Regions from separate parts of the Homo sapiens genome. Here all the other regions are linked to region 2. Evidence: fine-mapped expression QTL. A gene starts in region 2. Each other region holds a variant in brackets. All regions are shown on one strand. Distances are from middle to middle.

What was found.
Region 1: its variant is fine-mapped to the expression of SPIRE2 in whole blood (TOPMed, PIP 0.92).
Region 3: its variant is fine-mapped to the expression of SPIRE2 in whole blood (TOPMed, PIP above 0.99).

What each region holds. Positions count from the first base shown.
Region 1 is chr16:89,724,514-89,727,355 of GRCh38, forward strand. ZNF276 (zinc finger protein 276) reads left to right here. Exons shown (of 11, transcript NM_001113525.2): 5 at 2,766-2,842. Among named protein-coding and RNA genes, the nearest start is that of ZNF276, 4.4 kb to the left of the region's middle. The variant G/C (reference allele first, on the strand shown) is at 1,243.
Region 2 is chr16:89,826,814-89,829,655 of GRCh38, forward strand. SPIRE2 (spire type actin nucleation factor 2) reads left to right here and starts at 1,662. Exons shown (of 15, transcript NM_032451.2): 1 at 1,662-1,981. The coding sequence starts at 1,738. RefSeq lists a silencer at 1,716-1,805.
Region 3 is chr16:89,767,338-89,769,837 of GRCh38, forward strand. It overlaps FANCA (FA complementation group A), which reads right to left. Exons shown (of 43, transcript NM_000135.4): 26 at 2,500. Among named protein-coding and RNA genes, the nearest start is that of ZNF276, 47 kb to the left of the region's middle. The variant A/G (reference allele first, on the strand shown) is at 1,014.

The DNA.
Region 1 (2,842 bases), 100 kb before region 2:
GTGGGCATCTGTAATCCCAGCTACTCTGGAGGCTGAGGCACGAGAATCACTTCAGCCTGGGAGGCGGAAGTTGCAGTGAGCCGACATCGCACAACCGTACTCCAGCCTGGGTGACAGAGCAAGACTCTGTCCCAAACAGAAACACAGCTACCCAGATAGTTTAGCTAGATACGGGTGCACAGATGAGACAGTGCGGCTCGGGGGCCTCAGGTAGGAACGGGATTGTGAGTGTCACATCTTAGAGCTGCTTGGCTCTGTAAACTTGTATGCAGTGTGTTGAGAACAATTCTATCTATCTGTGTATCTATCTACCTACCTACCTATCTATCTTCCTACTTCTTTGTCTCTCTCTATCTACCTACCTATCTGTATATCTATGTATCTACTTATCTACCTATTTATCTATTTATTTACCTACTTATCTATCTATCTATGTGTTTATTTATTTTTGAGACAGAGTCTCGTTTTGTAGCCCAGGCTGGAGTGCGGTGGTGCCATCTTGGCTCACCGCTACCTCAGCCTCCCGAGTAGCTGGGATGACAGGCACATGCCACCACGCCCACCTAATTTTTGTATTTTTAGTAGAGATGGGGTTTCACCATGTGGGCCAGGCTTGGTCTCGAACTCCTGACCTCGTGATCCACCTGCCTCAGCCTCCCGAGTAGCTGGGATGACGGGCACGTGCCACCACGCCCACCTAATTTTTGTATTTTTAGTAGAGATGGGGTTTCACCATGTTGGCCAGGCTTGGTCTCGAACTCCTGACCTCGTGATCCACCTGCCTCAGCCTCCCGAGTAGCTGGGATGATGGGCACGCGCCACTACGCCCACCTAATTTTTGTATTTTTAGTAGAGATGGGGTTTCACCATGTTGGCCAGGCTTGGTCTTGAACTCCTGACCTCGTGATCCACCTGCATCAGCCTCCCAGAATGCTGGGATTACAGGTGTGAACCACCGCGCCCAGCCAAGAACAATACTTTTTAAAACTTATTTTAGGCCAAGTGCAGTGGTTCACGCCTGTAATCCCAGCACTCTGGGATGCTGAGGTAGGCGGATCACGGGGTCAGGAGATCGAGACCATCCTGACTAACACGGTGAAACCCCATCTCTACTAAAAATACAAAAAATTAGCTGGATGTGGCTGTGGTTGCCTGTAGGCCCAGCTACTTGGGAGGCTGAGGCAGGAGAATCGCTTGACCCTGGGAGGCGGAGATTGCAGTGAGCTGAGATTCTACCACTAC[G/C]CTCTGGCCTGACCGACAGAGCAAGATTCTGTCTAAAAAAGAAAAAAACAAAACAAAGAAAACTTATTTTAAGTAGAGACAGGGTCTCACTCTTTTGCCCAGGCTGGTCTTGAATTTCTGTCTTCAAGTGATCCTTCTGCCTTGGCCTCCCAAAAGGCTGAGATTATAAGCATGAACCTTCAGGCCTGGCCGAGAGAACAGTAATATTTATTTATTTATTTATGGAGTCTCGCTCTGTCGCCACCAGGCCTGGCCGAGAGAACAGTATTATTTATTTATTGATGGAGTCTCACTCTGTCGCCCAGGCTCGAGTGCAGTGGCACAATCTCGGCTCACTGCAGCCTCTGCCTCCTGGGTTCAAGTGATTCTCCTGTCTCAGCCTCCCGAGTAGCTGGGATTACAGGCTTGTGCCACCACACCCTGCTAATTTTTTTGTATTTGTATTTGTATTTGTTTTGAGAAGGAGTTTCACTCTTTGTTACCCAGGCTGGAGTGCAGTGGCACGATATCAGCTCACCACAACCTCTGCCTCCCAGGTTCAAGCGATTCTCCTGCCTCAGCCTCCCGAGTAGCTGGGATTACAGGCATGCACCACTATGCCTGGCTATTTTTGTATTTTTTAGTAGAAATGGGGTTTCTCCATGTTGGTAAGGCTGGTCTCGACCTCCCGACTTCAGGTGATCCGCCCACCCCGGCCTCCAAAGTGCTGGAATTGCAGGCATGAGTTACCACGCCCAGCTCAATTTTTTGTATTTTTTGTAGAGACGGGGTTTAACCATGTTAGCCAGGTTGGTCTTGATCTCCTGACCTTGTGATCCACCCGCGTCAGCCTCCCAAAGTGCTGGGATTACAGGCGTGAGCCACTGCACCCGGACTGAGAATAGTAATTTTTAATTATTTTATTTTTTTGAGTCGGAGTCTTGCTCTTTTGCCCAGGCTGGAGTGCAGTGCGCGATCTCGGCTCACTGCAATGTCTGCCTCCCGGGTTCAAGCGATTCTTCTGCCTCAGCCTCCCAGGTAGCTGGGATTACAGGTGTGTGCCACCATGCCCGGCTAATTTTTGTATTTTTAATAGAGATGGGGTTTCACCACGTTGGCCAGGCTGGTCTCGATCTCCTGACCTCGTGATCCACCTGCATCGGCCTCCCAAAGTGCTGGGATTACAGACATGAGCCACCGTGCCTGGCCTAGTAATTTTTTAAATGTCTCAGAACATCCACCAAGTCCAGGCTGTCCTAGAAGGACTGGATCGGAGTCAGTGGAAGGACTGGGCTTTCTGGTTCTGCTGTTCCTGAGGGTTCTGATGCTTGTTGCTGCCTGTGTGCTTCTGGACGTTGGGCTGGCAGGGCAGGATCAGAGGCTGCATAGCACCCTTGGTGGGGATGGGGCCATGGTGGGGAGAACTTGAGGGTCAGGGACCCCAGTCTCCCTTCTAGTCATCAATAGTAGAATCATGCCTCCTTGCAGGTGAGACCTTTCTGTGCTCCGTGTTGGTAACAGGAGCCTTGTTCTTTGTTTCTCAGGGCAGTTGGGTGAGAAGCAGCTTCCATCTTCAACCTCGGATGATCGGGTAAAAGACGAGTTCAGTGACCTTTCTGAG
Region 2 (2,842 bases):
AGTCCAGCTGGACGGGACGACATGGCTCATGCCTGCAACCCCAGCACCCTGGGAGGCTGAGGCAGGGGGATCACCTGAGGTCAGGATTTCGAGACCGGCCTGGCCGACATGGCGAAACCACCCAAAAAATTACCCGGGTGTGGTGGTGGGCGCCTGTAGTTCCAGCTACTTTGAGGCTGAGGCAGGAGAAACGCTTGAATCTGGGAGGTAGAGGTTGCAGTGAGCCAAGGTTGCGCCACTGCACTCCAGCCTGGGCGATAAGAGCAAAACTCCTTCTCAAAAAAAAAAAAAAGAAAGGGAAAGAAAAGAAAAGTCCAGCTGGACTGGGCGCGGTTGCTCACGCTTGTAATCCCAGTACTTTGGGAGACCAAGGTGGCCTGACTGCTTGAGCCCAGGAATTCAAGACCAGCCTGGGCAACATGGTGAGATCCCATCTCCACAAAAAATAAAAACAATCAGCTGGGCGTGGTGGTTCATGCCTTTAGTCCCATCTACTCAGGAAGCTGACGTGGGAGGATCACTTGACCCCAGGAATTTGAGGTTATAGTGAGCTACGATTGTACCATTGCACTTCAGCCTGGGTGAGACCTTGTCTCTAAAAAAAAAAAAAGAAAAAAAAATCATTGTGGAACTTCTTTTCTGGGATGGGATCTCACTGTGTTGTCCAGGCAGGTCCAGAACTCCTGGGAGACCAGCGAACTTTAAGTGCCCCAAGTTTCACCTCGGACCTGCATCAGAATCTCCAGCCCTGGAGCCCAGGAATCTGCATTTCTTGCCCCCGGGTGGTACTGGCAGCACCCAGGCTTGGGACCGTTTATGCCCCAACTGCATTTTCTTGCCCACTTATTCAGATCTGGCACAACTATGAAGAGGCCTCGGGATGAGCCCCAGCCGAGTTCCCCTTGCGTCCCTCAGGCAAACACCCAGTGTCCAGGAGTGACCCGGCCTGAAGACACAAACACGCCCCAAATGCGATGCACGCCATCACTGGCCAACCGTGTGTGTTTATTTTTCACGGACACCCTGGAGACGTCACTGCAGGCACATTCCCTGCTAGGCAGAGGCATTTATTAAGGGCTTCATACCCGAAGGCCGGATGCGGGGAGTCGCCCTCACCCCAGCCACCCTGCGACAACCCCTGGAGGTCACCTTGCCCGGGGCTCGGGGAGGCCACTGCGGGCTTTGTCTGCTCAGCTCCTCCCGGCTCCCTCCCGCGTTCCCAGCGGCAAACCTCCCAGGCCCCCCGCGGTCACCGCAGTGTCCCGGGCTGGATGCCGGCCCGGGCTTTTGTGGGCATCGGCCGTCTGGGTCTGCGGGGGAGCGCCGGGGGTGTCACCGCGTGTCCGAGCGCGCGGGCCCTGGCCCATGTCTGCAGCCCCCAACCCTCCCCCCGGTCCTGCCCAGCACCCCGGAGGGGTTCGCACCCCGGCCTCGGCCCCGCGCCCCCGCGTCCCCAGCCCTGAGCCCCAGCCCCTCCGCACCTACCCGCGCCCCGCCCTGCCCCTCACCCGTCCCCCTCCGGGCCTCTCCCCGCGCGCCCTCCACTCCCCGCCCCGCCCCGCGTCCCTCCCCCTCCGCGCCCCGCCCCCCGCGCCCTCCGCGCCCCGCCCCCGTCGCCGCCCCGCCCCCAACCTGAGGCGCTCGCGCGGGGCGGGGCGGCCAGGCTGACCCTGCGCGGCGGAAGGCGCGGCTGCATGGACGCGGGTCCGGCGCGCGGGAGGCGATGACGGCCCCGCCATGGCCCGGGCGGGCAGCTGCGGCGGCGCCGCGGCGGGCGCAGGGCGGCCGGAGCCCTGGGAGCTGTCCCTGGAGGAGGTGCTGAAGGCCTACGAGCAGCCGCTCAACGAGGAGCAGGCGTGGGCCGTGTGCTTCCAGGGCTGCCGCGGGCTGCGGGGCTCGCCGGGCCGGCGCCTGCGGGATACCGGGGACCTCCTGCTGCGCGGGGACGGCTCGGTCGGGGCGCGGGAGCCCGAGGCCGCGGGTGAGGCCGGGGGCGGGGCAGCCGGCGGGGACCGCGGTCTGGGGCGTCCGTCCCGCCCCCTGGGTGGGGGTGGTCCCGGCGGAGAGGCTGCGACCGGTTCTGGAGCGGGAGATCCCCTTCTCTGCGGGACCCGGAGCTCCCTCCCTCCCACTCTCCGTCCCTCTTTCCCTCTCTCTTTCCTCCCTCCTTCTCTCCCTCCTTCCTCTCCCTCCCCGGCCCTGGACGTTCCCCTCCCGGACCCCCCCACCTGACGCCTCTCCCAGCGCGGAGCGGGCTGCTCCCCAGTGGCCTGGCTTCCTCCGGGAGAGGGACTTGGGCCGGTGGCTCAGGGAGCACGGAGCTGGCCTTTGCTGGGGCGACTCCTCCCCTGCCTTCAGCAGGAAAGGAGACAGAAGCGTCCCCTTGGGGCATTTTCTCCTGGGTGGAAGGTGGGGGGCTGCGCCTCACTTGGCGTCTGAACTGACACTAAATTCCTGGGTTTAACTGGGAGAGGAAGGGGTGTGTAAAGTTGGGGGGACAACCTGCTTGGTGTTTCTATTCTTAACCATCAACCAGAACCAACAATTAAGCCCTAGAAAGATACTTGAAGTTAGTGAGAATGGTGAGCTTAAGTGATTATTTACCCTTTACGAAAAAAACCGAAAGTGATTTCTTCCCTGGAGAGCTGGAGTGCTGGCTTGGAGCATGTGATATGACCCCAAAAGCTGGTACCCTGCCGGGGGGCAGAGGCAGGCTGTGTGTTTGCCGCACTCTCTCCAGGCCTGAGAGCTGTGGGTTTGCATGAGCAGGCCTATGTGGAGGACCAGGAAGGGCCAGGGCAAGGCCAGACAGAAGCAAGCTACAGAGCCACGAGGGGTGGGG
Region 3 (2,500 bases), 60 kb before region 2:
GAACTGGATGGCCTGAGCATTGGTCCTTCGTTTTTTGGTTCGTTTGTTGTGAGACAGTCTTGCTCTGCCGCCCAGGCTGGAGTGCAGTGGCACCACCTGGGCTCACTGCAATCTCTGCCTCCCGGGTTCAAGCGAGTCTCCTGCCTCAGCCTCCCAGGTAGCTGGGATTACAGGCATCTCCCACCATGCCCAGCTGATTCTGTTGTAGTTGTTGTTAGTGCTTTTTTTTTGAGAGGGAGTCTTGCTCTGTTGCCAAGCCGGAGTAGAGTGGTGCGATTTCGGCTCACTGCACCCTCCACCTCCCAGGTTCAAGCAATTCTCCTGCCTCAGTCTCCCGAGTAGCTGGGACTACAGGTGCCAGCCTCCATGCCCAGCTAATTTTTTGTATTTTTAGTAGAGATGGGGTTTCACCGTGTTAGCGAGGATGGTCTCGATCTCCTGACTTCGTGCTCCGCCCACCTCAGCCTCCCAAAATGCTGGGCTTACAGGCATGAGTCACTGCAACCAGTCGAGTTTTTAATTTTTTTTAGTAGAGACGGGGTTTCCCCATGTTGGACAGGCTGGTCTCGAACTGCTGACCTCAAGTGATCTGCCCACCTCAGCCACTCAAAGTGCTGGGATTACAGCGTTAGCCACCGTGCCTGGCCCAGCCCTCGGTTTATTTTTTGTTTTATACAGGGCCTTACTCTGATGCCCAGGCTGGAGTGCAGTCGCACAATCACAGCTCAGGGGATCACTTAAACCCAGAAGTTCAAGACCAGCTTGGGCAACACAGTGAGACCCCATCTCTCACTAGCTGGGTGTGTGGGTGTGCACCTGTGGTCTCAGCTACTGGGAGGCTGAGGTGGGAAGATCACTTCAGCCTGGGGGACACAGTGAGACCTGTGTCATTTACTCAACATACATACCTACAGCAATACCCATGTGAAAAATTCTCACTTGTAACCAAGGAAGCTCAGAATGAGATTCCATGAGGCAATGGAGATGTCAAAGCACTGTCATGGTGTTCTTAC[A/G]GTTCTAATACTTCTGTTTTACTAATACATATTTGAGCTGGGCGTGGAGGCTCACACCTGTAATCCTAACTGAAGTGGGCAGATCACTTGAGGTCAGGAGTTCAAGACCAGCCTGGCCAACATGGCAAAACCCCATCTCTACTAAAAATACATAAATTAGCTGGGCATGGTGGTGCACACCTGTAGTCTCAGCTACTCAGGAAGCTGAGGCACAAGAACTGCTTGAACCCGGGAGGCGGAGGTTACAGTGAGCCAAGATCACGCTACTGCACTCCAGCCTGGACGATAGAGTGAGACTCTGTCTCAAAACAAAAACCAAAAACCAAAAAACAAAAAAAAAAACAAAACACACACCAAATATATATTTCATTCTCCCTTTCTTATGCAAAAAGTAGCATCTGAGACCGAGTTCAGTATTTTGCTTTCTTCACCTGGATATATATCCTGAGGCATCTCTGTGTTTCTAAGAGAGGATGGCCCTGTCTCCCCCAAGCCACCTGGATGCCTCCCTCCTCACCAGCTCCCAACTTCTCCATTGGCTGTGTGCCTCTCATGCCAACACCCAGTACTCAGTGTTTGGGGCCTGGGGTGAGTGGGGACTGTCTGGTGTGGCCAAGCGCCTAGGAGGGACTCTGTATCCCCGGAGTACCGAGTGCCTGCTCCCCGAGGCCCATGTCTGAGGTGTGGGATCCGCACAGCTGCCATCTGACTCCCTCTCCTTGCTCCACGTACATTTCTTGCGCCTCTTCTAAGTTCTCTGTTATTCAGACCCTGTCATAATGTCAGATCTCCCCTTTCCCGCACAGGGTCTCCGGCACCGCAACAGGGCTCTGTCCCGACCTGGGCTACCTCTGCCCAAGAGACCAGAAGCTACAAGCCAAGCCCCAGCCAGCAACTCCCACCAGAGTCTCCCAGCCCTCTGTCCTGGCTTCCGCCTCTGAGTGGCAGCTGAAGGGATTCTGTCCTGGCTTCTGCCTGTGCGTGGCAGCTGCAGGGAGCCCTTGAGGCACTGAGCAGACCATTCTTAACCACAGGGTCCTTCCTCACCTCAGCACATGGCCCCATCTGCTGAGCCCTAGAGAAACAGCCCGAGGTGTACACACTGGGAAGCTACTCACCATGGGGTGCCGAAGAACCTGACCAGAGGGAGCTGGTCCAACCAAGGGCCAGACAAGGGACCAAGACAAAACAAAGCAGCTCTCACCAGGACATCAAAGAATGCTTAACGATATAGACAGTTACTATCTACTATTAATTTCAGCAGTTTAGTATAATATGATCTCATTTTTATGAACAAAGAAACAAACGCACGCATATTATAAACAAATGACAGATAAAATTCTGGAAGGATATATACCAAAATGCTAAAAAGTGGTTATCTTTGGGTGGTATGTCTGCATGTCTGTCTCTTCTAATTTTATCAAACGAGCATGTGTCACTTTTCGAGAGAGAGGAGAGAAGACGCGACTGTGGAAGAAGAGCTCACT